Homo sapiens: one gene and its partners. The protein of the gene in region 5 purifies or fractionates together with the protein of the main gene of each other region. This does not show direct contact. Each region holds a gene or a part of one and is shown on either strand. Other genes may lie near its edges.

What was found.
Region 1: the proteins of ATP13A3 (region 5) and SKAP2 purify together in Homo sapiens (affinity purification with mass spectrometry; one large-scale study listed by BioGRID and IntAct). This does not show direct contact.
Region 2: the proteins of ATP13A3 (region 5) and JPH1 purify together in Homo sapiens (affinity purification with mass spectrometry; one large-scale study listed by BioGRID and IntAct). This does not show direct contact.
Region 3: the proteins of ATP13A3 (region 5) and GPR89A purify together in Homo sapiens (affinity purification with mass spectrometry, with the first as the bait; one large-scale study listed by BioGRID). This does not show direct contact.
Region 4: the proteins of ATP13A3 (region 5) and ATP7B fractionate together in Homo sapiens (co-fractionation; one large-scale study listed by BioGRID). This does not show direct contact.
Region 6: the proteins of ATP13A3 (region 5) and ENTPD4 purify together in Homo sapiens (affinity purification with mass spectrometry; one large-scale study listed by BioGRID and IntAct). This does not show direct contact.
Region 7: the proteins of ATP13A3 (region 5) and AGPAT4 purify together in Homo sapiens (affinity purification with mass spectrometry; one large-scale study listed by BioGRID and IntAct). This does not show direct contact.

Annotation. Positions count from the first base shown.
Region 1 is NC_000007.14:26,854,338-26,858,471, forward strand, and holds part of SKAP2 (src kinase-associated phosphoprotein 2), read right to left. Parts: intron 3,387-4,134; exon of another isoform or gene 3,114-3,386; intron 554-3,113; coding exon 448-553; intron 1-447. UniProt on the Homo sapiens protein: May be involved in B-cell and macrophage adhesion processes. In B-cells, may act by coupling the B-cell receptor (BCR) to integrin activation. May play a role in src signaling pathway.
Region 2 is NC_000008.11:74,241,122-74,245,255, forward strand, and holds part of JPH1 (junctophilin-1), read right to left. Parts: intron 4,055-4,134; coding exon 3,408-4,054; intron 1-3,407. UniProt on the Homo sapiens protein: Junctophilins contribute to the formation of junctional membrane complexes (JMCs) which link the plasma membrane with the endoplasmic or sarcoplasmic reticulum in excitable cells.
Region 3 is NC_000001.11:145,610,721-145,614,854, reverse strand, and holds part of GPR89A (Golgi pH regulator A), read right to left. Parts: intron 2,654-4,134; exon of another isoform or gene 2,608-2,653; intron 1-2,607. UniProt on the Homo sapiens protein: Voltage-gated channel that enables the transfer of anions such as iodide, chloride, bromide and fluoride which may function in counter-ion conductance and participates in Golgi acidification.
Region 4 is NC_000013.11:51,973,286-51,977,419, forward strand, and holds part of ATP7B (copper-transporting ATPase 2), read right to left. Parts: intron 1,884-4,134; coding exon 650-1,883; intron 1-649. UniProt on the Homo sapiens protein: Copper ion transmembrane transporter involved in the export of copper out of the cells. It is involved in copper homeostasis in the liver, where it ensures the efflux of copper from hepatocytes into the bile in response to copper overload.
Region 5 is NC_000003.12:194,483,817-194,488,693, forward strand, and holds the start of ATP13A3 (polyamine-transporting ATPase 13A3), read right to left. Parts: upstream 3,187-4,877; 5' UTR 2,750-3,186; intron 2,732-2,749; exon of another isoform or gene 2,600-2,731; intron 2,421-2,599; exon of another isoform or gene 2,138-2,420; intron 2,020-2,137; 5' UTR 1,978-2,019; intron 1-1,977. UniProt on the Homo sapiens protein: ATP-driven pump involved in endocytosis-dependent polyamine transport. Uses ATP as an energy source to transfer polyamine precursor putrescine from the endosomal compartment to the cytosol.
Region 6 is NC_000008.11:23,436,776-23,440,909, forward strand, and holds part of ENTPD4 (ectonucleoside triphosphate diphosphohydrolase 4), read right to left. Parts: intron 3,141-4,134; coding exon 2,974-3,140; intron 484-2,973; coding exon 159-483; intron 1-158.
Region 7 is NC_000006.12:161,267,131-161,271,264, forward strand, and holds part of AGPAT4 (1-acyl-sn-glycerol-3-phosphate acyltransferase delta), read right to left. Parts: intron 1-4,134. UniProt on the Homo sapiens protein: Converts 1-acyl-sn-glycerol-3-phosphate (lysophosphatidic acid or LPA) into 1,2-diacyl-sn-glycerol-3-phosphate (phosphatidic acid or PA) by incorporating an acyl moiety at the sn-2 position of the glycerol backbone.

The DNA of each region.
Region 1 (4,134 bases), on a different chromosome or scaffold from region 5:
AAATAATTTTTAAGGATCTAAGTACAGTAGTAAAATGAGGATATATCTTTAATACTTATGACATGTAAATATATTACATTTATTCATTTAAAGTAGTAACAAAAGAATTCTCTTTCTTCAGTGTCAGGTATTTTCTGTATATTAAAGTCCTCAATCCACCTTTGTCTTATCATTTAAACCAAATATACCCTCAGATAATCAAAATAAACAGCTGAACTCTGCTAGAATGCTCAGAAAAATACATAATCAAGAAGGGTACTATGATAAGCATATCTGTGTTTAAAAACTATATAGTGGAAATATATTTTTTGCCCTTCAAAAATACTTAACATCAGTTAAACTGGAACATGAAAAATTTAACTCCATAATAATCGATTTCTTATTAAAATGTTAGTTACAAAACTGCTTCTATGTAAGAAATCAGTAAACAAAAGGTAAGTGACTTACATAGACTTTACATCTTTTATCTTCTTAATAAGGGATTCTCTCTTTTCCTTTGCTTTCTTGGATAAATTTTCTCCTTTCAGTATATCTGCTACAAATGTTTCAACATCTAAACCATGCAATATAAGAAACAGGATACAAATTATAAGAAATAAAGGTTTTGTGAAGATAAATAGGACAATGATTGTTTCTACATATAAGTGTTAATACCTGTACAATTTGTTATAGTTATTTATCATTCCAAAGCATAACAGTTGAAGTGTGTTTCAAATACTAAGTTGAACAAATCTGATCACCACTTAGCTAATAAAATTTGTAAGTTCTACTTATGCTTACCACAGCAAATACTATTTGGATGTTTGGCATCATTAAACAAGGAAGAAGCACACACCAAGTTTTAATAAACTATGGTGCCCCATAAAACAAATTCTTTATATGGAAGCAAGCACCAAGCTTTTAAGCATGTGTTAATATCATTTTCTAGTATTTTGTAAGTTCCTGTGTGAAAATGTCATTCATATTATTATGTCAATACAAGCTAATGTCTCTGGCAAGGGTCTGTTTTCCCTAGTATAATCAATTTTCAGGTATATCCAACATGTAATGCTTTAAAGGAAAAAGTAAATCCACTTTTCTAGCCAAGATTCCCAAATCAAGCCCTCCTTCTTCCTACCTACACACTCATTCTGACTACCCTCAAATAAAAAAGATAACCAGCTGTGTAGTTTTGTGAGCTCTTGCTTCTTGCCTTGGTATTACCACCTGAAATATTTCTTAAGGAAGAAGTACAAACATAAGTTCTTCCACTATATAAAAATATAGTCACCAAGAAACAAGATTTCTGTGGCTTCATGTAACATTCCCTCATAGCCTCTTTTTTTAATTTTAGTAAACTTCTAAATTACGGTGCTGTCTGGGTCTCTCTAGTGTAAAATTCCAACAAGTCCTTACAGGTTTAATTTTTATACTAGTTCCATTCTTATTATTCATGAAATACTGTGCAATTTTAATTTTATTTTCAGAATTTCACACCTCATTTTGAAATATCTAATATGGAGGATATCATTAAAGATGTTTAAGTAGGCATGGCTATAAATCATTGATTATTTCATATGGAAGGGATTTGTGTTTTACTTTCTTTTTCCTTAACTACTTTGTATAGCATCAAAACAATATTACGTATAAATAGTTCAAAGTAGTATAATAATCTAATAATCTTTCAACTGTACTTACAATTAACCATTTAAAACCTAGTATATGTGATAGAATGTTTGTAATTCTTGATTACAAAAGTATCTTGATCCAATGAGGAAAGCCAATTAAACTTTTATACATTCATAATAAATGTGTACAGGTAATTTTTCACTAAGTCAATATGACAAGTAAAATAATTAAGAATACTGTAATAATTTAAAAAAAATAGCTTATGGTTTGAAGTCTATTAACGACTAATGTGTTAAAAATTTAAGTATCAAAATGAAATGAAAGCAAATGTCACAGCTTCTCTTTCCTTGAGTTATATTAACAACTGATGTATTAAAAAATAAGTATCAAAATGAAATGAAAGCAAATGTCACAGCTTCCCTTTCCTTGAGTTATATTAACAACTAATGTGTTAAAAAAAAGTATGAAAATGAAATGAAAGCAAATGTCACAGCTTCTCTTTCTTTGAGTTATATTTTGATGTGGGGGACATAGAGACATAATCTAGTACCAGTGCAAATTAGACACAGACTTCTAAAGTGAATTCAAAATAACAAAACTTATGAAGAAGCATGTTGCTCTAAAAGCTTTAAATTTTGTGCCCAGAACAGCAAGCAACCTTTGGATATTTCGATATTAGCTGAAATGGAAAAGATCACTGGCTCCCCTGAGATCATTACAGTAACTTTTGCAAGAAAGTGGAATAAGGGAAGAAGCAACATCCCTACTGCTGATTCGTCTTCCAACCAGACTCAATAGGAAGAATCACTGGCCCAATGACTGGGGAATAGTCTGCTTAATGTTATTTTCACTCAATGTTTGCCTTTGATTTCCTCTTCCATGAGTATTTAATTGCCTATTTTATATTTTCATTATACAATCCAAGTTTAAACAAACAATCTATTTTCTATCACTGGAAGTAATAACAATGAATTGCCCCCAAGAGTTTTTTTCTTTAAAAGGTCATTTCAGTTTTATAAAAATTCAGAAAAAAAAAAAAAAGGCTGCAATAAACACTCTACATAGTGCCCTCTAACGCCCCCAAACATGTTTTTAAAATACTGATCCATGTTACTATTTTATGACAAAGTTTTTTTTGAAAGAGTGTGGGACTGTAGGAAGAATCGGTATTTTTCAAGGATGCCAGAAATTCAGAGATTGGGTATGGTCTTTTTTTTTTTTTTTTTAGAGTAGCCTTTTTTAATATACTTATTCCTAAGCTTTTCCCAGAAAAGGTTTAAAGCAACTAAAATTATTTAATAAACAGTGACTTTTTCGTGATTATTTCTCAAAGGTGATGTGGAGAGAGTAGAAACTGCTTTGCTTAAAAAAAAAAAAAAAAAAAAAAAAACTTTAAACTGGAAGCAGTTCCCGAAATAATTTTAGTTTGTTGACTGTCCACAACCAAACTTGGTTGGTTTTTAAGCTTTTGAAATCTAGGTTATTTCTTAAAATCTACACTTTACCCGTTTCTTTTAGAATCGAATGAAACCAGCCTCTTCCAGGCACAGGAGACTCCTAGACGTGCCGGTGGCGTTCGGCCGGTGTCTGAGCAACACACCGATCCTGATCTCGCAACGCAAAGACAGACCAAGCGCCGCAAAGAAGTTGTAGGGCTGCGAGATGCTCCAGCTCTGCCCTCTGAGAAACGCACTTCAGCGTTAAACCCCAGGGTTCCTCTCAGGCGGAGCAGTGAGCATGGAGAGCCGGGTCTGGGGCAGAGCCCTCACTAGACAAATGGGGCTGGATCTGTGGCTTTGTAGCTCAGAGCCAGGGTAATATTTCAAAAGCAAGCAATAAGAGTCTTGGGCGAATCAAGTGTTCCTCTGGCTGGTTGGAGAAGAGATTTGAAGCTTCTTATTGTGCTCTAAATAGCCCTGCAAACGGTAAACTAGCAAGCACAGTAAACTAGCAAGAGCGTTAGCCTTCTTCTACCTTCCTTTGAGGGTCGTGTTCCTCGGTTAATATGTAGATTTCACCATTCCTGAGTGCCCGTAATTCAGGGAAACGCAGTAATTTGATAACAAGAAAAGGTCAGCCTCCCTCGCTCGACCCTTAGCCCGGTTTTTAGAATTCTTCCTCGGAGGCAGGGGCTCAACTCACACTCTCACGCATACTGGCCACGGGAGAGAAGCGTGGGAGGCCCACTCTGCGCCCGCGGGAAAGGGTTTAACTACCAGGTCTAACTACCCCCACCCACCCCCATCTCCTGCCTCCGGGCCGGCAGCCAAATAGACTGCAGAGTCTACACTGCTTGCATTTAACCCCAGAATTACCCCTATCTCCATCAGCCTCCACCCCAGCCCAAGTCATCAGCAGGAAAAAGTTATCCTGGTGAAAGTAAACGTGATGGGATTTTAGCTCCTAATACACCTTAACACTGTCAAGAGTAAACCTTATCTCACGGTACAGCTGTAAGGATCTGGGGGAGAAGGCCTCTGAAAAGATCAGATTTACAACTGCTCTGTCGATAAATGTTAAGGTCTG
Region 2 (4,134 bases), on a different chromosome or scaffold from region 5:
TATATATTTATCCTACCAGGGTGGCTCCACTTAGAAAGCTATTTTTAAAGGTGACTCAGTGAAGATGAGGGAAAACTAGACATGAAAGCTTCAAACAGCAACCAGGGGAAAAATAAAAATCCGGGATGCTCTGTTCAGTGGCAGATACCAAGCCCTGGCCTCTGTGTTCTTTATATACCTAGGCACAGGATATGGGGTGAAAAGCTTTAAGGTAAAGTCTCATAAATACGACTGTGGTGGCCAGTTGTAGCTTAAAATAGCAAAATGAAAAAAAAATCTGTCTTGCTTTTCAAGACTGACTGGGACAGGTGTAATACAAGAAGCTGTAGCAGGGCACAGGGTAAGTCTTGATTGGAAGAAATTTTCCAGGTGGTAAGAAAATAAAAAACAGGAAATCAAAATACAGAAAGAAATCCTAACTCAAAAAATTATCTTTTTTTCCTTTAAGAGATTGTCACTCATATTTAAAACTGTAAGGAATTTTCTGCTAGAAGAGTTACTATGGTTTATGTGAAATCTAAAGCTTCTCTAGCTAGAAACACAAGAGAAGAACAAAGTTTAATTAAGTATTAACAGCAAAGTTTAATTATATATATTTACCTCTTTCGGGGGTGAGGTTCAAACCCAATTTGATGGGGACGCTTTAAATTTTACACAAATTCAAAAGAAAGATTAGATGAACCTCAAAACAAACTTGGATGCAAATCACAGGAATGGCTGAGAAAAAAGTGTAGTCATTTTTCAGAATGGGCTGAGATACCTAATTGGAAAATTCCCCTCTTGTCTACTTGATGGTAAGACGCTAAAGATGCCTCTTCTGACCCTACCAGAGTTGTCATGTTGCAAAACTCTACAAAAATTTCGGGATCACATTGAATGCGTGCCCCTAGGACATGAGTCCATACGCAACCATTGCCCACAGGGGTCACAAAAGTTTCTTGAGGAAAATCTTCCTCAAGAAAGTAATCAATGCCACAGCCTCCCTTCTCCTACCTCTCATACTCGAGTTAACTAATTTCCTGTGTTAGTCTCCATCCCAGGAGATTTTCTGTATTTCTAGGAGATCAATAGCCAGGGTGATCCTGAGGATGGATCAGATCTACTTGAATATTTCTGAACTGCTTATGCTTCAGTTAGCATTGTGTTGAAACAAACATCATAATAGCCAAGGTTTTTTGAGCATTTATTCTGCGCTAGGCACTATGCTAAGAACTTTTAAAGTATTGACTCATTTAATCTTCACAACAACCCTGTGATAGGTACAGATGAGGAAACCAAGGCACAGAGCAGTTAGGAAACTGTCCAGGGTCACACAGCTGGTAAGCAACAGAGCTGGGATGTGAACCGAGGAAGTTCAGCAACAGAGTTCAATTCTGTGAATTTTAAAATTATTCACGAATGTCTAACTTATACAGTGTCTTTCTCTCAAAACTATGTAGTACTCCATTATCTTAAAGGTCATCCACTGACAACATTTATGATGACTGTGCCACTTCCTAACTCTGAGGAGTGGGGACGGCAGCGTTCTGTTACTATTGGGAAGACAATGTTAATTATTAGAATCTTCGCGTGAAGGTGTCAAGTCGGTCTTGAATTTTGCAGAGGCAGTCTAAAGCTCAGGGTAGCTGCGGAGCTGCTGGGGCTTCCCTTCCCCCTTGGGGTGTAGAGGGGTACCCTAAGGACCAACTACTGAGATGGAGGATGCTTGTCTAACTCCAAGAATCTGAGAATTCCGCAAATAAGTAAAACAGATGTTTTTTCTAAATGAGGAGGCTGTGAATTTACCAAACATACGTATACTACTGTTTTACAGAGAGACTCTTTCAGCTAAGAGCTGGGTAATTCAACTTTTTTTTCCCCCTATCACAGCCTAATGTATAGGACGCTGGGGCATACACTTCCCCTTGTAGAAGTCTAGAAGTCAACTAAAGCCCACAAATGGGTACCCAAAGGTATAAAAGGTATGGCCTTGCATTGTTTGAATTTTTCCCTGTGTAAATCAGGCAAACTAACACTGATATATGCGAGGCCTTATTAACCTGGGGATAAACATGCTGAAAGTCAAATGAGAAGTAAGCTATTACATTTAACAAATTCAATAGTGATTATTATAGTTGTAATGTCAAGATACTGTCATATTAAGGTTTAAAATCTTTAAAATGAATGCTTACTGAAGAGTCAGAATCTTAAAGTTAGTCTGTTTTGAAAACAATTTTTCTCCATGCAGGTGGACTCCTAGGAAGTTGGTCCAGTTAATCTGAATAATTTATGTTTAGCTAATTAAAAAGTTGAAAATTTGAAAAAAGAAGAGAACCAGTGTTTTATAGATATTAGCAAAATAAACACACAAGAAATTTTAAGCATAAGTTAACAGAGGAATTTTAATTGTTTAATCCTGTGAGTAAATCAAACAGACAAAAATAAGAAACTGATGGCTGTACTATATTCTTGTTGGCCAAGATATTAATCCACACCATTATGCAAATATGTCTCTATAATTTCTAGTGAATACTAGGTGTGTAACTTTCAACACCTCTGTTCTAAAGGGATGTGATCAGGTCAAGAGGTCATTTTTTAATCAATAATTAGCTTCAGATTTTATAAATACTATAGCATTTGATAAAACACTAATTCCATACATTATTCAAAAAATCTCCTTTTAAAGAAGGTATAAAGATTTTTCAATAACACAGAGCTTTTCTGGCTGAATAATAAATAAATATCTTAAATGCTTAAGACTAATTGATACTAATAACCTGCATCTACCAGAAAACTGAAATTGTAAGAGTTCTCACACTTTGAAAAGACAGAAGACCAAAGAAATTCTCTTGAACTGTTGGAAATTTTCAGTTCTCTTTTGGGAAAGAAAAATGTTCTAGCTGCAAAGCCTGGCTAATTAAAGTCCAAACTACGTATGTATGAGAAGAATTCACAACGGCTAGAGGAGACGTTCTTTTGTGTAAAGATGCTGACCGCTGTGGTGAAAACAGGAGAACTAAGAACTTGTTGGTGCCCTTTTCCTAGAGCTCTGAGAGCGGCTGGCCCTTGGCAGGGGTCATGATTCCTTTCCAGCAATCAGAGAGCAAGCTACCAGGAAGCTCACCAAGACACGCTGTTAAAGCCTTGCTAAAATGTGCTAAGATGCTGTGCTAAGCTGGTCAGGTCTTACCTACCTGAATTACATCTAAAGTGGGGCTGGGTGAACATAGGGGTGGTGGGGGGAATTTCTGCCCAGAGAGCTCTTTGCTGTCTCAAGCTACCAATGTGTTATGTGCTGCTCTAAACAACCCTGTGCTTCTAGAACCTTGGTTAGCCTGGCTGTGATCAAGATGCACAGTCACCCCACACAGCTCGCTGAAAGAAACAAAGGGAAGAAAGAAAGAGAAAACGCTACTTGCAGTACTTACTGAATTGGCTTCTTTTTCCAAAGCAGGGCATGAATCGTTGCTTGCTGGATTCTTTGGTATAGCAAGTTCAGACTTCTTAGCTTTTGGCTCAGCTTTGCTTTCTTTGGCAACTGGTTTTGTCACAGATTTGGAGGGACTCCACTTGTTAGCGGATGGCTTGTGCACCAGTGCTGAGGAAGACTGGCTGGATCCATCGCCGTCCTCCACGTCTACTGGAGGGTGCTGGGGGGCGTTCAGCTTCACGTAGTAGCCGTGATACTGAGAATGCAGCTCCCCGTTACTGGGGTTGGGGATGTGGTGGCGGCCAGAGTACTTGGACTGGGGCACAACCGCTCCTGCCTCCTTCGTGGGAGCCTTTGACATCAAGGGCTTATTGACAATGGCCGTCACCTGCTCATCAGCCACACTCCTTTTGTCTTGGTTGAGTCTCGCCCCTGAGCTGGGGTTTTGCTTCTTCAGGGGCTTTGGGGAGGAAGCAGGAGAGTGGCTGTGTTTGGGACTTGCCTCAGGAGATCTTGGGGGTGTCGTGCCTTTGCGATAAAAATGAGGAGACTCCTTTGGTGTAGGTGGCTTTTCTGGTACCTTTTCTTCTGGATTTTCTTTAGCATCTACACCTTCCTGAAATCTCTGTTTGACGTAATCAGGGCCTGGCCAAAAAAAAAAGAAAAAAGAAAAAAAGAAAGGAGGTATATATACATATATTTTGCTAAATCAGATTAACCTTTTC
Region 3 (4,134 bases), on a different chromosome or scaffold from region 5:
TTCACATCGAGACCTGTGTAGATGTCCTCTGAAAGGAACTTCTCTCTAGCCCTCTCCCAGTTATGCTATTTACTCCCCCTGGAAGGCCCTCTCTGCCCTCCCAAATGCAGATAAATTGCTTTTTATATAATCCTGTTTTACATTGTACTTCCCTCATCAAAGTGCTTACCATACAGTTTTGTAATGTGTGATTTAAATATTTTTTGACATTAGATTATAAGCTCTATGAGGACAAAAACCATGTTTGTCTTGTAATCTTTGTATCCTTGGCATCCAGCACAAAGCCTGGTACGTAGCAGGCTCTCCATAAGTGCTTGCTGAATGGCTAAGTGGTCTACATAAAAGATGGTTTATTCTTCAGCATTCAATCTTAAATTTTCTGTAATAACTCCTACGTGCTATGCTAAGTGCTGAGGATACAAAGATGAATAGGATGGTTACTACCCTCTAGGAGCTCACAATATAGTGAAGACAGTACATAAATAATTATAACATAATATGGATGTGCAATGATAGAAATACATACATGATATTGTAAAACAATATGAAAGAGGGAGACCAAACCAATCTGTAAGGGGTTAGGACAGATTTTCTGGAGAAGATAATGCCCGAGCCGAAGGAAGTTTTAATTTGGGGTTAAAACCTGATATTGTATGCACATTTTGGGGTTATGTGCATTTTTCTAGAGTGGTTTCAAGGTATTCATCACACAGTCAAAGGTTTCCACCACCCCTAACATAAAAACCATCCTCTCAAAGGATGAATAAGAATCAAGTAGGGAGGCTGGACATGGTGGCTCACGTCTGTAATCCCAGCACTTTGGGTAGATCGCTTGAGCCCAGGAGTTCGAGACCAGCTTGGGCAACGTGGTGAAACCCCATCTCTACAAAAAATACAAAAATTAGCTAGGTATGGTGGTGCGTGCCTGTAGTTCCAGCTTATGGGGAGGCTGAAGTGGAAGGGCCACTTGAGCCTGGCAGGTAGACGTTATAGTGAGCTGTGAGCATGTCACTGCATTCCAGCCTGGGTGACAGAGCGAAACCCTGTCTCAAAACAAAACAAACAAACAAAAAACGAATCAGGTAGGGTAAAAACAGGTGGTAGGGGTAGGAGGACAGGGCTTTCCAGATAGCAAAGGGCATGAGTAAAGGCGCAGAGTGAATAGCATGGTATATGCCGGGAACTACACATGGTTTGGTGCTGCTAGAAGATGAAATTCAAAGAAGGAAGAGGTTAAAAATGAGGCTAGACAGGAGGAGTGGATGTCCAATCACTGAGAGCTTTGAAGGCCACCCTAAGGAGCTTAGATTATAGTCTGTAGGTGATGAGGGTTATTTAAGCAGGGAAATGGCATGGTCTGATTTGTTTTATATTATATAGAGCGGTATGGTGGCTGTATGGAAGACACACTTGAAGGAAACAACAGTGTAGAAAGAGAAACATTATAGAAATGTGTTATGGGAATTCAGATGAAAGATGATAAAGCCCTGAATTAAGACATTTGGTGACAGAAGAGGAGAAAACAGATTTGAGAACTATTTAGAAGGTAAAATCAACAGGGAGAAGTCAAGGATGACTAGTTTGGAATACAGGATGAAGAGTGAAGCTACCCAATTTATATAAAGAATACTGGAGAAAGAAGAGGTTTAGGAAAGGGGGCAGAGGATGGGGAAAATGATGAGCTCATTTTTGAACACACTAAGGGCCTGAGGGACAGCCAGCAAGATGGATCAAGATATCCAGCAAGTATCTGGAATAAAAGACAGATTGTGAAGGCAGGTCTAAGATATACCTATGAGTTGAAACCACCAAAGTACATGAGATCACCTGGGAATAGTATCTAGAGTAAGGAGAGCAATGTGCCAAGAAGAAAACACTAGAGGATAAGGAAAACAATTTTGAATAGTGAGGTAGAGGCAGGAACCAGAGTGTAGCAGGTCAGAATGAATGGGAGCTAAAGCAGTGGGGACAGTAAATGCAAATTACTCTAGGGAGAGCCAGGAATGAGAAAAAAAGAAAACATTAGATAATAGGCTAGAGAAGAATGTGGAATAAAGGGAAAGTTTATTGGCCAAGGGGAAAGAAAGCAGTCAAGTAAGGAGAAAAAGATGAGAAGGATGGTGGAATACTAGAGGATAAACTGATAATACTATTATTAATATGATTAGGTAACTTTTATTGAGCATTTACTATACTACAGGCTCTCTAAGTAGTACTTAGCATTATAATCTTATAAAAATAATTAAAAACTCAGTACAGTGGTTTGATTATCCTATTTTCACGGAGAAAGATGAGGTTTAGAGAAGTTAATCAATTTATAGTAAGTGTCAGAATCAAGATTGAACTCAAGCTTGTTTGACTCCAAAATCTGTGCTTTTTTTTAAATATTATTTTTTCAGCTCTTATTGAGTCTGTCTGTTTAGAAAATCTGTGCTTTTAACCACTTCAAAATACGCTACTCTAAGATCAAAGGTAGGTAGAATGGCTTTAAACCGGAGTAGGGGAACCCCGTTTTCTGAAATGGGAGGAAAGGAGGTAAGAATGGTTGTGAACACAGATAACCTTTTAGATTAAAATGCAGAAAGTATTCATAGTAGGAGATCATACCTTTTGGCTTCACTTTTGTTGAGTAAGTACGAGGCAAGGTTATCTGCTAAGAGTAAGAGAGGTGAGTTAGAAAAAGGAGCTTTGAGGAGAGTGACAAAGATTCGGAGAAACTTTGAGGGGAATGAAACAAGTAGCTGATTAAGGTCAAGAAAAGGAATAATTCAGTGAGCTGAGGGTTAAACTCCTGGCGTTGGCAAACTACACAGCTATGTGATTTTCTATAGTAGCCTTCAGGCCTCTGTATTAGTAGTAAACAAACTATAGCAGTGATCCAAGTGTGGACTTATATATACATGAAGGTAAACGAACAAGAGGGTGTAAGAAAGTAAGTTGGATCCAAGCATCTAGATCAAGCAGAAAAGGAAAGGGTCAAACAGATTAGGAGAAAATGTCCAGGATATCCTTTGGCTATTATAAATATTTACCGGTGGAGACAGATGTAAATTCAGAGTTTAGAGACCATATTTATATGACTTATGAAGCCACGACTGAAGACAGAGAAGTTGGGCAGTTAGGACTGAGGGTGGTATGTATAGTGGAAATGGATGATTAAAAAAAAAATCACCAAGATTGCTATGAAATGGAAGAGAAAACAAGCAAAAATTTTAAGTTTATATGGTGGGGAGGGGAATGGAAGAAAAGAGAAACAGATATATACCTTTAATATTTCATTGTGGCCTCCTTTCACATTGAAAAAGAAAAGCTTAAAAAGACTTTCAGAACAAAATTATGTCCTTTGCAGCAACATAGATGCAGCTAGAGGCCATCATCCTAAGCAAATTAATGCAAGAACAGAAAACCAAATACCACATGTTCTCACTTCTAAGTGGGAGCTAAATATTGGGTACTCACCAACATAAAGATGGCAAAAACAGAAACTGGAGACTACTTGGGGGCAGGGGAGGGGAGAAGGGGGAAGGGTTGAAAAACTAATTATTGAGTACTATGCTCAGTACCTGGGTGACCGGATCATTTGTACCCCAAACCTGAGCTCCCACAATATACCCGGCACAAGTACCAAATCTAAAATAAAATAAAAGTTGAAAAAAAAAAAAAGACTTAAACTACACACACACACACACACACAAGTAGCTGGAGAATTCATTTACATCCAAGTAAACACAAATTCTGGCAAGATTATAGAGGATCCAAAAAGAAAGCAGAAGCAAAATGCAATTTCAAATAGCTTTGCAAATAAAATGGAAGGCGTATAGCTTCTTATTAAAAATGAGACTTGATACTTTCAGAATTGTACAGAGTCTTGACCTTAGGACTTAAGAGTGTACTCTGGAACTGATAAGTCTTATGACGGTATAGAGGGCTCAAAACATGAGTTAGTTAACAGTTGCTTTTAAAAAAGTGACTTCTGGGTTGAAAATTAGCTACTGTTAAAAAAAAAAGATGGCCATCAGCAGGACAGTTATTAAAGAATTAACTATAAAAGACACCTTTCTTGGATCATTTATTCACCCTTTTAATCATTTAACAAATATTTATTAGTGCCTAATATGTGCCAGGTCCAAGGGA
Region 4 (4,134 bases), on a different chromosome or scaffold from region 5:
CAGAAAAGAAGCCCAAATCCAAGGAGGTTCGCATTCAAGTCAGCCATGGTTTGACTGTGTCCCCCAAATTTCATGTGTTGGAAACATAATCCCCAATGTGGCAGTGTTAAAAGGTGAGGGCTTTAAGAAGTGACTGGATCATGAGGGTTCTACCCTCATGAATGGAATCCACTCATGGATTAATGGGTTATCACAGGTGTGGCATCGAGGCTTTCTAAAAAGAGGAAGAGCCACCTAAGCAACCACGTGAGCATGCTCAGCACCCCTGCCATGTGATGCCCTGTGGCACCGGAGTCCCCACTGGCAGAAGGCTCTCACCAGATGTGGCCCTCAACCTTAGACTTCTCAGTAACTATAAGAAACAAATTCCATATCTTTATAAATTACCCAAATTCAGCCATTCTGTTATAAGCAACACAAAACAGACTAATACAAAATCCCAACTACATGAAAAGCAAAATCTAGACACTTGGAGATTATATTTCCTCTATCTTAACAAATTTAACATGCAAGGAAAGTTTGCAGGATTTTGTTCCACTGTTGACATGGGAGGCAGGGAGCAGGGCTCACCTATACCACCATCCAGGAGCTATAAGACACAAAGAGAAAAGGAGACAAGCTCAGGACATGCCTCAAACACACTACGTACCAGAAACGACTGAAGCCTCAAATCCCATGTCTTCTATAGCAGCTCTGAGTTCTTCTGGGCTAATTACAGAGGGATTATAAAGAACTGTTGCAGTCCCTTCGGCCAAAGACACCGATATTTGCTGCACCCCTTCCAGTTGGGAGATCATGCCTTCAATGGAATGGACACAGGATGCACAGGTCATGCCGGCAATGGCAATCAGAGTGGTACTGCATGTGCCCTGGACCTGGTTTCTCGGTGGGGAGCCAGGGGAATGAGAACTGGAAGACCTGTGATCTGTCCCACTCCCTTCGGCTCCATCAGGAAGAGAAACTTTAAAATTCCCAGGTGGAAGTGCCTCGATAGCCCTCTGCAGAGCCACTGGGCTGGTACAAGAAGGGTCATACTTTACTTGGGCAGTTTTGTTCTCCAAGGACACTTGAATACTTTGAACCCCTAGGAGCTGGCCAATATTTTCTTCAATATTCAAGACGCAAGACTTACAATGCATTCCATCTATTCTCAGTTGGAGGGTGACCACATGGCTTCCTTGGTGCCCCAAGGTCTCAGAATTATTAAAATTCTGGTTAGCAGAAGATAAAGGTCTCTTTGGGTTAGTGCTTTGTAACCGCTCAATATCAATTGGTCCCAGGCTTAAGGGAGCCACTTTGCTCTTGATGGCAGCTTCAAATCCCATGTCATTTACATGGTCCCTGAGGTCTTCGGGCTGAATGAGATAAGGCTGATAAGTGATGACGGCCTCTTGGTTGCTGAGTGAGACTTTGACTCTCACTACTCCTTGCAGTTTCCGGACCTTGCCTTCAATGGAGCTGACACAGGACTGGCAGGTCATGCCCTCCACCCGGAGCTTGACCACAGCCTCCTGGGCAGGCAAGGACCTTGAGGGCCAGGAGGCTGCCTTTCCTTCTGCAATGCTGGCCTCGAAGCCCATGTCCCCAATTTGATGGCAAACCTGTTGCAGGCACACAACCGATGGCACATATTTCACAGTGGCACTGCCTTGTTCCAGGGAAACCTTCATGCTGATGATGCCTTTCAAATTGGAAATCCTGTCCTCAATGGACTTCACACATGACTGGCAAGTCATGCCCAAGATCCTGACTGTGCTGGTGGCCACCTGAGAAGAAGGGCCCAGGCCATCCAGACCACCTTCATAGCCAACATTGTCAAAAGCAAAACTCTTCTTCATTGCTGGTTCCCAGGCACGGGTAGGCAAAGAAAGCTTAGATAAGATCTAAAAAGAAAAGAAATAACATTTTTTAACCTTGAAACCAAATATTTTCTACAACATCCCAGCTTCTCTGGCACTGAGAAAATGGAAAACAATGCCACTGGTGTCAAAATATCCCAAGGGTAGAAGAACATAACATACACAGAAAGCAAGCTAAAGGCAGCATCTACAAAATGAAAGAGCTCTGACATTCTTCTCTGACAGAAGCTAACTGTCTGTCCTCCTTAGTGAAATGTCGTTCTCACACAACAGACGTGGAGGATTCTGAGGGAAAGAAGGAAAGCACGACACAGCTTTACATATGGAATGCAGCACGGCTGGCCTGCAGCAGAGGCAGAGGGCACAGCGGCTCACGGTGGGAAGGCACAGGTATCCCAAAAGAGGTCCCCACCTCTGGCTGATACCTCCCCACAGAACTTAGTCCTTTCAGCTCAAACTTTGGGGGTCCTGCTGAAATACAAACCCCAGAATAGTCAACACCTTACTTCTATATCTCTTTCTAGGGGTGTCTGTCTGATTATCTTAGCAGAGGTTAAATGTGCTTAACACCCTTCAGGTACACGCTCCAAATGCAGACTTCCCAGGACCATAGGGTCGGAATCCAAAGGTGGGCCACATGCCTGTGAAAAAGCTTTGGAGGTATGCTCCCTGGGCGAGGTTTAATGAGCACCTGTGGCTGAGCCGAGGGGCGGGAGGGGAAAGGCTGGAAGAACAGAAAGTTGAGTTTCACAAGGAATTTCATAGTTCTGCCTGTGACTCAGTGTCACCGCCCTCCTGGGTGTTCAGGAGAGCTGTAGTCATTACCTGAAATTTCAGGTACATCACTTAATTAAAGAACCTGTTTTCTTAACACAACACAGTACAAGTGTTATTCCCTGGTTTCTACACAGGATGATGTAGTCTCAGTCATTCTATTAACAAGCAAAATCTTCCTTTCACAGGCTCCCAGCCTACAGCTGTCTTAACTAGATATACTTTTTACACCAGAACTTCCATGTGCTTCAGAAATTTGGGAACAGGCCTTTATACATGATACATCATAAAAAAGCACATTTCTCTCTACTTGTACACAATCCTGCTTGTCTTCAGATGAATCTCCTTTACATGGAATGATCTTCTCCTTTTTCCTGTGCATAAAATGCAGACCTTGCCAACCGGCTTTTGAGCAGCTTAACAACACAAATGTTTAAATAACTTGTAAAATGCAGACTATATAAATGTTGATTTCTATATCCACAAAGGTTTGGGATTAATAATTACATAGAATTTTAAATATTCACTGTAGCATTTCCTAAGAGAAAAAAGGGAATAATTAAGTAATTTGGGGGACAGCAGTTCAAAAGATATTGCTGAATCCAGTAAATACATGAATGTTTAATGATGTTAAGGATGGTGATACATTCTGAGAAATGAGTCATCATTGTGACTTCATCGTTGTGTGACCATCATAGAGTCACTTACACACACCTAGCTGATGTAGCCTACCAAACACCTGAGCTGTATGGTGTAGCCTGTTGCTCCTAGGCCACACACCTGTACAGCATGTTACTGTACTGAATACTGTAGGCAATTGTAACACAATGGTAAGTACTTGTGTATCTAAACATATCTGAACATAGAAAAGGTACAGTAAAAACACAATATAAAAGATTAAAAAATGGTGCACCTGTATGGGGCACTTATCATGAATGGAGCTTGCAGGACTGGAAGTTGCTCTGGGTGAGTCGGTGAATGAGTGTTGAGTAGATGTGAAGACTTAGGACACTGCACTACTGTCGATTTTATAAACACTGTAAACTTAGGCTACACTAAATTTATAAAAAATAGTTTTATTTCTTCAACAATAAATCAACATAGCCAGACAGTGGCTCATTGTAATCTCAATGCTTTGGGAGGCCGAGGCAGGAGGACTGCTTGAGCCCAGGAGTTCAAGGTTACAGTGAGCTATGATTGCACCACTGTACTCTAGCCTGGGAGACAAAACAAGACCCTGTCTCTGAAACAATAATAATAATTTATTAATTAACCTCAGCTTGCTGTAACTTTTTTACTTCATAAACGTTTAATTTTTTTTTTTTTTACTTTCGACTCTTTTGTAATAACACTTAGCTTAAAGCACAAACACACTGGACAGCTTTATCAAATATTTTCTTTATATACTTATCCTATAAGCTTTTAAAATTTTTTTATTTTTAAACTGTTTAAGCATTTTTGTTAAAAACTAAGACACAAACACATACATTAGCCTCGGCCT
Region 5 (4,877 bases):
CCTGTTCTGCAAGAAGCAGTATTAAAAAATGTTTTTAAAACTTTAAAAAATAAGAAATGTGATTCTAAGGAGGGAGAGAGAAGGGAGAAAAGGATGAGTACAACATATCTAAGAGTTAAACTGAGCTATATTTGAATGGATGATAAATGGAATAGGAGTTGGCAGCTTATCACCTATCAAAGAAAACAGTCAAAACAGTTCACAGTTGTGTGCTAAAAGAAGGTGATCTAGTGTGTGACACCTATTAAGATGACATATCTGATTTATCACCAGAATCTGAGGTTCAGAGATGTTATGTTGCCTAGTCACATACAACTAACCTTATAAACCCAGAGACAGAAACCTCTGTGTTAAGCACATTAACACAGAGCTAGGTTTCTGTCTGTCTTCAAAGTCGCTTATACTGTAAGCTCCTTAACTTCTTTAATTTTTTTTTTAACAAAGAAGAATATTGTTACCTGAAAGTGTTGAGGATTAGTTGAGACCATATGTAAAGAAAGGAGCACTTTTCCTGGCACATAATGGTTTCTTTCCTTCTTCCATTCCATATATTGAATCAAACTATGCTTGTATAACGTGGTGGTTTTGTAACTACTGTGAATATGAGGTTTTAGAATATGAATATGCTTTATTCCTAAGATAAATAGTAATCTTAGGACATAGGCACTATATCATATTACTATGGATATACAACCTACTCAATGGTCAAACTCAGTGAGAATAAGCAGTGATGGGGACGCCCTATGGAACTTTATCTTTATTCTGTCTTTTTTCTCAGTCTCAGTGATGTTGGAAATAAGAACTTTATACTTGTGAATGACAACAAAGTGGTTTATAATCTCGAAAATCTTGAAGACAGAAATAGGATTTCAAAATGAGCTCGATAATGTGGTTTATCCAAAGCGGATTCTGTGTGTTGTATATTTGGTGACCTAAACTAACTATGTAAGTATCAACCGCCAAGCTCGGTGGCTAGCGCCTGTAATACCAGCACTTTGGGAGGCCTAGGCAGGAAGATCACCTGAAGTCAGTAGTTCACGACCAGCCTGGCCAACGTGGTGAAACCCTGTCTCTACTAAAAATACAAAAAATTAGCTGGGCGTGGTGGCACACACCTGAAATCCCAGCTACTTAGGAGGCTGCGACAGGAGAATCGCTGAAACCCAGGAGGCAGAAGTTACAGTGAGCCGAGTTCACACCACTGCACTCCAGCCTGGGCAACAGAGCAAGATGCCATCTCAAAAAAAAAAAAAAAAATTTAAAGCAACCAAATAGTGTCACTTTTCCTACCCAATCCCCTGACCAAAGCCAGGCATTGTTGTTCTAACAAGGCTCAAAATCTCAATTATTTCACTCTCTGCCTGATCTAATGGTAGGATAATGCAAATCAAAGATACCAGCAAAAGTTATGTTCTACAACAATCATTAATAATAGGTTTACTACTTCGAACAACTTCCAAGCACTGATTTGCCTTAAAGGGGTTGCAAACCAGGATGAGATGCCCACACACATTGATTTTTGGCAACTGTAGTCTATTAAGCAAAGCAACAAACCTCTAGAGAAAATAATGTCACATATATTCCAGTGAAACAAAATTAATACATGTACCTTGGTAAAGAGGCTGAGCTCTAACCAAAGATAGAGCACTGTTCATTACGTACTCACCCTTCAAAGGAATCAAATCGAAACACTTTCATTTTAACAACGATACTTTTTAAAGGCTTTATTTTGCAATAATCTTTCAAGTCCCTGCATTTCTTAGATTCCTTAAATTCTAACTTCCTGCCTCATAGATCTAAAGTAGCCATGACATACCCAGGTATGTTCTACTCATTTAGTTAGAATCGTATAGAGGAACACAAGTCTGTTTCTAGGTGTACGACTCCACACCCATTCATTTTGCACTAATATAACCACTAAATATAGCTCTAAGACACTGATGATTAAAAGCGGCTAATTATGTGAGTGATTCATACCTCCTATGTCCAAACACCAAGATTCAGGGATGTCTGTCAGATCTATGGGAAGAGGAAACAATAAACACCTGTCACAAAGCTTCTTCCACACCGGGAAGCCCCCAGCTGAGTTCCTGCCAATCCCAACCCGATTCCCTCCCCCTTCATCCCTACCCCTCACCTCCCCAAAAAAGCCAGAGGTCATACTTCCACCAGAACCTGACTCTGTGAAGGGAATGGAGAGACAGAAAGGCCATAGCGAGAGTGGCCACGAGAGCACTGCTAGGGCAAAGGGCCCTGGGTTTTTCTAGTCCTCACTGCCACAGAGTCCGAGTGGGAGGCCTCAGGCAAGTCAGAAGTCACTTTTCCTCCACGGGACTCACTCCTTTTATCTGTGAAATGCGGAGATGGCAAGCAGCTCCATACTCCACGGCTGAGGACGAGCTAGGGTCCCGCACAGACTCATCGAGGGCCCTGCCAGCACCCCTACGCCTCTGCCCACAGGACCTCCACCTCCCACAGGACTTTCCGAAAGCTCTGACTACCAACCACCAAGCGCCCGGCCCCCACGCTCGCCCCCGGCAGGCGGCGCGTCCCCCCCAGGCCTTCGCACCCACCGCGTGGGCTCCTGCCCTGGCCTCACCTGCCCCCGACACTCCCCGTCCCCGCGATGCCCAACTCCGGCCCGAGAAGGCTGGCCGCGACCTCGCCCGGTACCCGCCGCCCCGACACCACCATTCGCCTCCTCGACCTCCCCCGGCGCCGCTGCCCACCCGCCCCTCGCCCCGCTCACCGGGGCCGCTCACTGGCCGCCGCCGCGCCGCCTCCTCCGCGGCCTCCCTCGCGGCCGGACCAGCCCCAGGGACCGCGGGGGACCCGGCCGCCGCTGTCGCCGCCGCCGCCTCGCCTCAGCCCAGCCCCATCGCCCTCGGCCGGCGCCGCGCGCTGCGGCTCAGGGTGAGGGAAGGAGGCGCCGCGGCGGGGCCGGGCCGGCCCTGGGACGTCCGCGCTCTCCTCCTCCTCCGCGCCCGCGGCGGCGGCGTGCAGCCGGCAGGGCGAGAACAAGGGAGGGCGGCGGGAGGTGGGCAGGGGAGGGGGGCGGTCTGCACTCCGAAACGGCCCCCCCGCCGCCAGCGACGTAGAGAACCCCCCTCCCCTCCGCGGCGGCGCCCGATCACGCTGCGGGGAGAGCCGGCAGGCAGGCGGGGGAGCGCGCGCGGGCTCAGGACTCCCGCGCCGGATGTGAGGTCACGTGGTGGCTTCATCCCCGCGCGGAGGGCGGAGGGGCGCGGGCGACGTCAGGAGGCGGGGAAGGGGCGGGGAGGGGCGGGGCGATTTATAGGCCCCGCCCACCCATCGCCTTTGCCACCCTCGAACGGGCAAAAGAAAGAAAGAGGCAGGTAAGGGGAGGCGAGGCCGTCCAAAAACGCTGGGTGTCAGCCCGGGGTGGCTAATGGAGGGCGGCTTTTCTGGTGGGATGAAATGGAACGGCAAATCCCACTTCATCCCCTTTGGGCTATGACAACATCATAGTCCAATCTCCCATTTTATGAACAGGGAAACTGAGGCTCAGTGACTAGACAGACGTTGCCCAGAGTCATGGTCATGGAGGAAGCTTGTGCTAGAATGGTGGAGAGGAAACCAGAGCCCAGCTCCTAATGCAAGGCTCTTTCATTCCTTTAGCCACCCTCGCCCCCGCCAAAACAAACAGACAAAAAACTGTCATTCTCATATGACCACGGACTCTGCGCCCCGGCCGCAGGCGGAGGACAGGGAGGAGCGCACACGAGAAAGCTCCCACGCGCCCGCGCCTCGCCTCCGACGGGAAGGCGCCTCTTCCGACCGTCCTGGATGCAAATTAAATACTTCCCTCCGCAGAAGACTTATCTCGGGGTAGGGCCGCAGCCGGATTTCCAAATCGCGGGTTTGATTTTCGCTGCGTCCTCTCCGCGACGCGCGCAGGGAGCGCGCCCGGCCACCTGCAGCCTCTGGCTGCGGCCATCTTTCCGCCTGGGGCCACCTGGCCTGCGCCCTTTGTGCCCGGCCCGCTCCGTGACTGTTCTTCTTGCCGCTACTTACAGAACTCAGCCGCCTTAGCGTCTTAGAGAAGAGGACGGCATGCATGCGGACCCCGTCCACCACACCTGGAGAGCAGGGAGCCCTTAGTCCCTGGACACTTACCAGGGCCGCCACCCCTGGTCCACGCACGTGATGACATCTCACCAGGGGCAGCACACCGCCCGAGTCCGCGACACTGATAACACCTCCTGCGGGCAGGAGGGCGCCACAGCCACCCCTGGTCCCCTAGATTGTGTGAGGCTAGCATTTCTGCCCGCCTCTTGGCGTGGACAGCACGCTGGACCGAGATGGAACCACAGCTTTCTCTTCCCAATCCCTGGCCTCACCGTTTTGTTTCATACCTCACCGTTTGTTTCAAACCTCGTGGTGTTGAAATGATTAAATGAGATTAAGGGGTGTGTGGTAGTGTTGGGCAAACCACAAGAAAACGGTCTGGGTGGGGTCTGGCCCTAAAATCTTCCTCCCCCACCTCCCAGGCTTCCTTGCCTTGCTGCTTCCTCTCAGCCTTTAAACAGGTTGGCCTCTCCAAGTCCTAAAAACAAAATTATCAAGCCAACCTCCTCCTGAAGTGCTCCCTCCAACTAGCTTCCAAGTGTTTCATGCGGACCTCAAACAATGGTCTTCCCTGGCTGCCTCTGCTTCCTCATTTCTCAACACTTGGCATTCTGGCTTCTCCTCCCCAACTCTAACCCTTCACCTTGCTCAGGCAAGAGCAACTCATGACTTTCATTTTGCCAAACCTTGCAGGCATTCCTCAGGCCTTATCTCTCTGGTTCTTTCTGCTACATTTGACACCTTGGGATGACTCTCACCTTCTGGAATCTCTCTACTACCTTGGTTTC
Region 6 (4,134 bases), on a different chromosome or scaffold from region 5:
AACCTCCCTCCAAGCAAAGGGAACAGGATCCCAACATGCTGCAGTGCAGCCTTCTATACTCCGTCTTTCCCTGTCAATGTGAAAGGAGGACATAACCCGTCACCGTCCACACTGGTCTCTCAAAAGCATGCAGAGCAGACGGCGTCTCTCAAGGGTACCTTTGCAGCTTTAGTAAATTTAGCAGCATTGTAGTCTCCCCCCATTCGTAACACATCCTCGGTGCAGTAGTAGAATTCGGAGAAGCCATAGAATTCACTGTTCTGGAAGTGAATTGGGGGCTGGTAGACCCCATTGAGGGAAGTCTGGGTCTCGTTTGTTTTATTCATGAAAGGCTGGATAGTCTCTCGACACAGGTCAAAGTCTCCAGTCCCTCGTAGGTATATGGTTTGTCCATTTTGCTGGATTTCATCTTTAATGTCTAGGGGTAGGCAGGGGTCCAAGTACGGCATATCAGGAGTCAGACCAGTCTGTTTACCCAGGAGCCTATGGCAAAACAAGAAACTTCATCGTGAGTCCTACAGAAAACTGTGTTTTCAGGAAGTGGCTGCAAACCAGTGTTTCTCAAAATACGCTCTGTGGGACATGAGACCTGCAGGACCGTGTCTGTGGAACAGAAAAGGGTTCCGAGATAATTAGTTAGGAAAATACACACTTGAGACTTTCTTGGAGAGTCAGGATACAAACTTGCCTGCAGCAGACAGGCTACCAGAGTCCAGTTGGATAACCTACCCGATTAGCCGACGATCCTGGCAACAAGGCCTGATGTTCCCAGCTGCTGGGCACAAGGCAACTGTGTTACCAGCCCCATTTTTGCACTAGTGCTTGTGGTTTTACCTAATACAGATGGAAGGAACGTGACTGTGACAAGATCCGGTCCTGGGCAAAGCAGGTTAGATGCTTTAGAAAAGTTACTAGAAAATTATCAAACTAGGTGTGGGTAGGATTTTTAAAACTGGGAAAAATTAGCAAACATCTAGAAGGATTTGGTATCAAATTGCCTTGCAAATCTCTTTTAAGTCCTCAGTATTCTTTAAACAAAGACAAACTGGTATCTCAATGAGGGGTGCAGTGCATGCCAAAGAAAGGATGGAGTCTAAAAACAGACCTTGGTTCAGAGGAAAAGATTAGCAAATGAATACAGAAGTTAAGACAGAATGTCTAAGGCTTGGCTCTATTTTTATCATTCTGTTTCAACTTATTTCTTTCCTTGATCAGCTATGGGTCCCAACTGCAGCAGACAGCAGTTTCCATTGTACAATGGGCTCTGAGATGCCCTGTAGAAAATAAACATTAATTTTGTTAACTGAAAGGCACTAGGCTTATTACTTGCTAATGAAATTTCTGGGAGTTAACATCTGTCATCCTATTGTGTGTGCATGCCTTCAAGCAACAAGAAACAGAGAAGAGCTCACAAAATCTCAAGTGATGTTGGTGTTGGATACTGTGAAATCACAGGGGCCTGACAGGTGTTGAACTGTTAAAGGGTTAAGCATGGTCAGAATTCAATATTCATCACCGACAGTCAAGTTTTCACTTTTCACTCAACTCACAAGTTGTGTATTCCTCAGATCAGGGTTACTCATCATGCAGTTGAATGTAATAAATTAAGGTCTTTGCCATAAAAATGTTCGCTTAATTTAAAAAAATTAATCACCACTACAAATGGCGAAGAGATAAATGTGTACTTCAATGCTCAATTCATGACATATGAAACACCTGTAATTACTATAAAAGTCCAAGAGTAGTCAAATATATATTTCATGCTATTATTTTTAGTTGTCCTATATCTAAATTAAGAAGTACCACTAAACTATCCATTATATAAAGCTTTCTGACATTAAAACCAATGAGTAAAAATTAAGGTTTCGGAAAAAATATGTTACAAATGTTGTCTATAAAATATTTCTAGTTTAAGACTACTATAAAAATGATTATACCAAAATGTGCTAAATACCAATTAAAAATACAAAATCATGGGACTACCAATCTTATAATTAAAACTATTCAGTTAACTTTTGGAAGAGACACAGGAAAAGGTTTTTATTGCTTTTCCTATTTACACACATGACTTTGTGGTAAATGTACTGAATAGCTCCAACTTGGTCTTTTTTCAAGTTCAGGCCTTCACAGGTTTATTAAGATTACATTAATCAAGGAAGTATACAATCTCTTAGCTCTATGAACTAGGATTTTTTTCCCTCAAAATTGTTTCATCAAAATAAACAAATAAAACACAGTAATAAATAGGATAGCTTACATAACCCCAGATTCAGATTTTTTTATTTATCCAAATAGCTTTTATGTTCTTACAAATTTCAAATAAATAAGTGCTATATACTTACACTTATACAGTCAATTTAAACCAATAGAGTGCTGTTTTGTTTTATATATTTTCTATACCACAATTCTTCATACACTCATTTTTTAAAGCTTCATTGCTAAATTCAAAAGCCACTAACTCTGACTCTTCTAGATAATTTATTTCTCTTGAATAATTCCCTTCACGATGGTTCTTATCCACTAACTAGCTGCACTGGCTGCTTCATCCACAGAGTCTCCAGAACATCACATATTTCAATCTCCTCAGCAACAAGAGAACACACTACCTGAGGCCTCCAGGACACCACGAGTGCTCCAGATACTGGGTTTCCCAAGGACTCTGAATCATGAATAGCACCACCCAGGGCTCCAAACTATTCTATAGCTTGATGGTGAAATTTCTAATCCATCAGTTGAGATGCGGGTGAGAGAGCGCACGCACACACCTCCTTCAGGGCACGGTGGGACAGAGGGCCAAAGGCAGGACCCTGGTGTGCTTTCATCTCTTCTCCCTGCTCAGCTAGTGGGGGAATAAAAAGCTAACAGTGCAACACACTTTTGCTAATTGAGTTCTTCCCACTTTGCCTGGGTCTGTTTTTTATGAGGAGAGACCTAGGTTTGCAAATGACTGCCAAGTAGTGAAAGGTGCTTTACCTGTTCTTTTGAATGGTGTTGGCAAATATTCTGTCTTCGTATCTCTGTCGAGCAGCATTGCCACCAAACCCAAGAAACGTGGCCACATAGACTCGATACACATGCTCAGTTTGGTGAACATCACATCCCAAGTTAAATTCAGCTAACAAGTTTTTAGCTACTTCTTCCTGCAGACATAAGCATAACAAACCTTAATAGCTTAAGCTACTTTAGCCTCCTACTAAAAAGAAAAGTCTAAAAATAGTCTCATCTAAAAGGGACAAAAATGTCTGCTTCTGCACTTCCCAAGGACCCTTCTAAGCATCACTCATAATTCAATATGACAATTCTGATTTAGGAAATTTCAGATGGGCTGCAAATTTGTGATACTGTTATGACTTTTTGAAAGAGAAAGTCAGCAAAATAGTTCATACCCTCTGACATAATTTATTTCTGGAATCCTATGCTGTGGAAATACACCTAAACATGGAAATGTTTCTATATGCAAAGATGTCCTTTGTCATTCTGTGACAGAAAAAACTAGATGTCATCTAAATATATAATAGCAAGGGAAGGTTAGTTACAGTAATCAATAGCTTATGGAGGAACATGCTCATGCACTGTTAAATAAAGGACAAAAATCATATAAACTAAGATTATAACAACCATATTTTTTAAAACTATGAGTAGAAAAAAAAAGAAATTCACTAAAAGGCTAACAATGGCTTTTTTAGGTGATGAATCCATGGGAAATTTTTAATCTTGATTTTTCAGTATTTATTCCAAACGTTATTTCTATGTATTTTTTACTTTATATTGAGAGGGAAAAACATGATTTTTTACAAAGAGTGTAACAGTCTCTAGAGGCATGTCTGGAATGGGAGGTAGGAAAAACAAATTGTAATACTTGAATTTACAAAGCATTTTTCCAAGGAACTTAATAAAGATGTCAGTAACATTTATTGAGAACATACTAGCTGCCTGGCAGTGCATTAGATATACTGGATGCATTATCTCATTTAAACCTTCTAATAACCCCATGTTGTAGGTACTTTTGTTCACGTTTACAGATGAAGAAACCAGCTTAAAGAAGGTACATGACTTGCACAAGGTCACACAACTAGTGAGGAGGAGGATGATGAAGAAACCCAGGCCTGTCTAGCTCCACGGTCTCACTTTGAA
Region 7 (4,134 bases), on a different chromosome or scaffold from region 5:
CACATTGGTTTTGAGAAGAGTTCATCTTTAATTTAATGTATGTACTGCATTGTCACTCAGATGGTTTTAATCACAAGGCCCTTTCCCTTCTCCCACCATCTCTGGCTAAACCATAATAAAAACAACACTCCCTGAAAACTATAGTAGCTTGTCTTATAAAGTACTGCTGTTAGTTTTTCTCCAAATTCTAAAATACTACCCTTTCTTGCAGTAATTTTGCTGTTCTTAACAACTGGGATGAAAGGCATGCAGAGGTCTACACGGTAGAGATTTGTTCATTATTTGAAAAATATTAGCTGGGGAACGGGCGCAGTGGCTCACATCTGTAATCCTAGCACTTTGGGAGGCCACACTGGGCAGATTGCTTGAAGTCAGGAGTTCGAGACCAGCCTGGCCAACATGGGGAAACCCTGTCTCTACTAAAAATACACACGCAAAAAAATTAGCCAGGTGTGGTGGCGCACCCCTATAGTCCCAGCTACTCAGGAGGCTGAGGCAGGAGAATCGCTTGAACCCAGGAGGCAGAGGTTGCAGTGAGCCAAGACTGCGCCATTGCACTCCAGCCTGGGCAACAAGAACAAAACTCTGTCTCAAAAAAAAAAAGAAAAGAAAAATATTAGCTGGGCATGTTAGTACACACCTGTAGTCCCAGCTACTTGGGAAGCTGAAGCGGGAGGATTGCTTGAGCCCAGGAATTCAAGGCCAGCTTGAGCAACAAAGTGAGACTGGCCTCTTAAAAGAAAGACCAGTCTCACTTTTAACATTTTAAACAAAACTAAAAAATAAATTTACCACATATCTGTTATGTGCCAGGCTCTGCACTGGGCATGGGAGACAGACTGTGGAATATGCCATGGCAAGGTGTGAAGGTACAGGGGAAAGCAGAGCCCAGATGATCTGGGTTAACGTCTCAGCTCTGCTCCTTCTTATGACCTAGCTGAGCTGCTTAATCTCCCTCATCTTTACTTTCTCTCTCTGTAAAATGGAGCACGATGAGAGTTTTCACACACTAGCTTTGTTATGAGGCTAAAATGAGTTAATAAATGTGAAGTCCATGTACTGGCACATAGGAGGCCCTCAGTGAAGGCAGGCTGTCATCATTCTTGCATATCCTGTAAGTCAGCCAGTCACCTCAGTGTCTCTAATGACCTCTGCAGGTTACCTGGCATAAACTAGACTGAGGCATCATCTCCTACAAGAATTTCTTTTCTCTTCTATAAAAAAACAAAACGGGATACATGTGCAGAATGTGCAGGTTTGTTACATAGGTATGCGTGTGCCATGATGGTTTGCTGCACCTACTGACCCATCCTCTAAGTTCCCTCCCCTCACCCCACTCTCCAACAGGCCCTGGTGTGTGTTGTTCCCCTCTCCTTACAGGAATTTTAGTGTCTGGCTTCAAACTAACATAAAATTCAAAATGCACCTCTCGTCTTGGAGGATCCCACACAGAAATGACCATGAAGTAGTTATGATGTTTAACCTAAACAGAGCAGAGATGCCCGTGCCAACCAGAGTTATTAGGAACAGCTTCATGCTGATATCATCTGAGTTTAAAATAACCAAGAAAAAGAAGAACTTGCTAAATGTTTTCTCCCAAGGTCAGCCAAGCAGAGGAGTGTGGTTTTCCAGAGGAACTTTGTCATGTTGTCCATATAATTTCCAGGCTGACGGTGGAACTTAAGTGGGGGAAAATAATTCTACTAAGAAGAGTTTCATGACATCAGAAAACACAGAGAAAGTGCTGCAACGAGGTCTCAACACTGTTCGTGTTGGGTCTCTAGAGCCACCACTAGTTTCTGGATGCACTGCTGTTACTATTAAGAAAGCTGTAGGGGGTTGAAACCCACTTGTTTTTATCAGAACAAGACAGAGACTTGCAGTGTATTATGGGAAATCAGCTCCAAAGGACATGAGGATATTCAGTGAACTAATGGGTATGTAATTGGACGCAGGTAGTTTTTCTTTTTTAAAATGCTATACTTTGAGTCGATGTGGGGGGAGCTGTTGTCACCTGGAAATCTATGAGTAATTCACTATGAATGGGAACCTTGAGAGATTCTCTCTCTCAGATTGTTCTTTCAGAAAGAGAATACACAAGCCTTCTCTTCCTCTGTGTCTCCTGCGTTAGAAATTCCACTCTTCCCATTTAGTTAATTAACAAATGTTTACCATCCTTATGCTCAACCAGCATGGAAGGTACAAAAAATATATAAAATGGACAACAGTCAACAGCTAACCACTTGATCCCTCCCTGCCCAGCACAGTTTATGCTGTGTGTGAACAATTTATAAAATTGTTCAATGAAAGAAGTATCCTGTTTCATTGGCCAATAAATGCTTCTATTAGAAGTGATACCGCCAGGGCAGGCGCGGTGGCTCACGCCTGCAGTCCCAGCTGCTGGGGGAGGGGGGCTGAGGCAGGAGGATGCTTGAGCTTAGGAGTTAGAGGTTGCAGTGAGCCATGATGGCGCCACTGCCCTCCAGCCTGGGTGACAGAGCGAGACCCTGCCCACCCCCCAAAAAAAGTCATACCCCCATGGTTTAGAGGCTGTCTCCACATTGTCTTCCTGATAGTTCTTAAGCTTCTTTAAGGAAAAACCAGTTTCCCGTTTATTGCTATATCTATAATATACAGTGCCTGAGACATGATACTCAACACTATTTGTTGAATAAATGAAGGGATTGGGGGTGGATAGAGGACAGATGGATGTATCATGTATGTGTGAATGGATGAAGGAATGGTGACTGAAAGGTAGGACTTAGGATCAAAGGAAGAAGTAGAGCAAATTAGATCGGAGAAACAAGATAACGACAAACAATGAAACCAATGGGAAATCTTTGTGGAGCAAGAGTGTGCCAAGGAAAAGAAGACAGGTAGATGGATTGTTCCATGACAATGTTGAAACAAATTATACTCCTTTTAAGATATTTCCTCTTATTCAGTCATTAGAAGAAAATGGGTATCTGCCAGTCATGGGGTTTCCCTTGTAAACCCATTTGAAAACTATAACTATTTAAACTGTATCTTGTTTTGCTCACAGTTGCATCTGTGGGACCTGACACCTATTAAACACGTAATAAACAGCTGTTGAAGAAAGAGTTCATGCTTTAAGCTTCCTCTTTCCTACAGCCTGGCAGCCACTGCAGACCTTCCCAAGCCCATGCATGAAGCCAGGTTTCAGAGTTCCAGCGCTTCCTTTCCAAACTGATTCTCACACAAAGAATAATGAATTTGAGTTGCCCAAGCTCTAGGAAATGTTACATGATTATTATGATTATATTTCAAAATAGGAGTGATGAAAGGCGTTTCACCAAAGATTTAGAGGTCAAACACCATTCAGAAATGTGAATGTGGGCCAGGCACGGTGGCTCACGCCTGTAATCCCAGCATTCTGGGAGGCCAAGGCAGGTGCATCACCTGAGGTCAGGAGTTCGAGACCAGCCTGGCCAATACAGTGAAATTCTATCTCTACTAAAAATACAAAAAAATAAAAAATAAATTAGCTGGGCGTGGTGCCACATGCTTGTGATCCCAGCTACTCGGGAGGCTGAGGCAGGAGAATCGCTTGAATCCAGGAGGGGGAGGTTGTGGTGAGCCGAGATCACGCCATTGCACTCCAGCCTGGGCGACAGAGCAAGACTTCATCTCAAAAAAAAAATAAATGTGAATGCGGCTTTGTCCCATAACCATCAGACCTCCTTTCCAGAATAAAGGAGACTGCACAAAACGTGTGACATTTACCAAACCCTCATTTGAGCATCCAATAATTTAAAACAATGGCAATGGCAGGAATTATGAAGATGACATTCCGGGTAAGTTCCTGGTTGCGTCTTCCCCAGTTTCATACCTGTTTAAAGTCTAGTGTAAGTCTGGCCTTTCGTTGTTAAGCTGAAGCTAAAAAAGTATTGGATTAGGAAGGATTCTGCCTTCTGTTCAGTCTTCTAACAGTCCTTCTTTTTCTGATTAAGAAAAACTTCTGTCCCCAATTTACATCTACTTATGCTTTCAACCAGCACAGAGTATACCTGCTCTACTTCTATACTAAAGACTGACTTCTCCCTTCTTGGAGTTAAGAACCCTGAACCATGATCCATTTCTTACCATCCACCTTTGCTATCTAAGACACCCTCT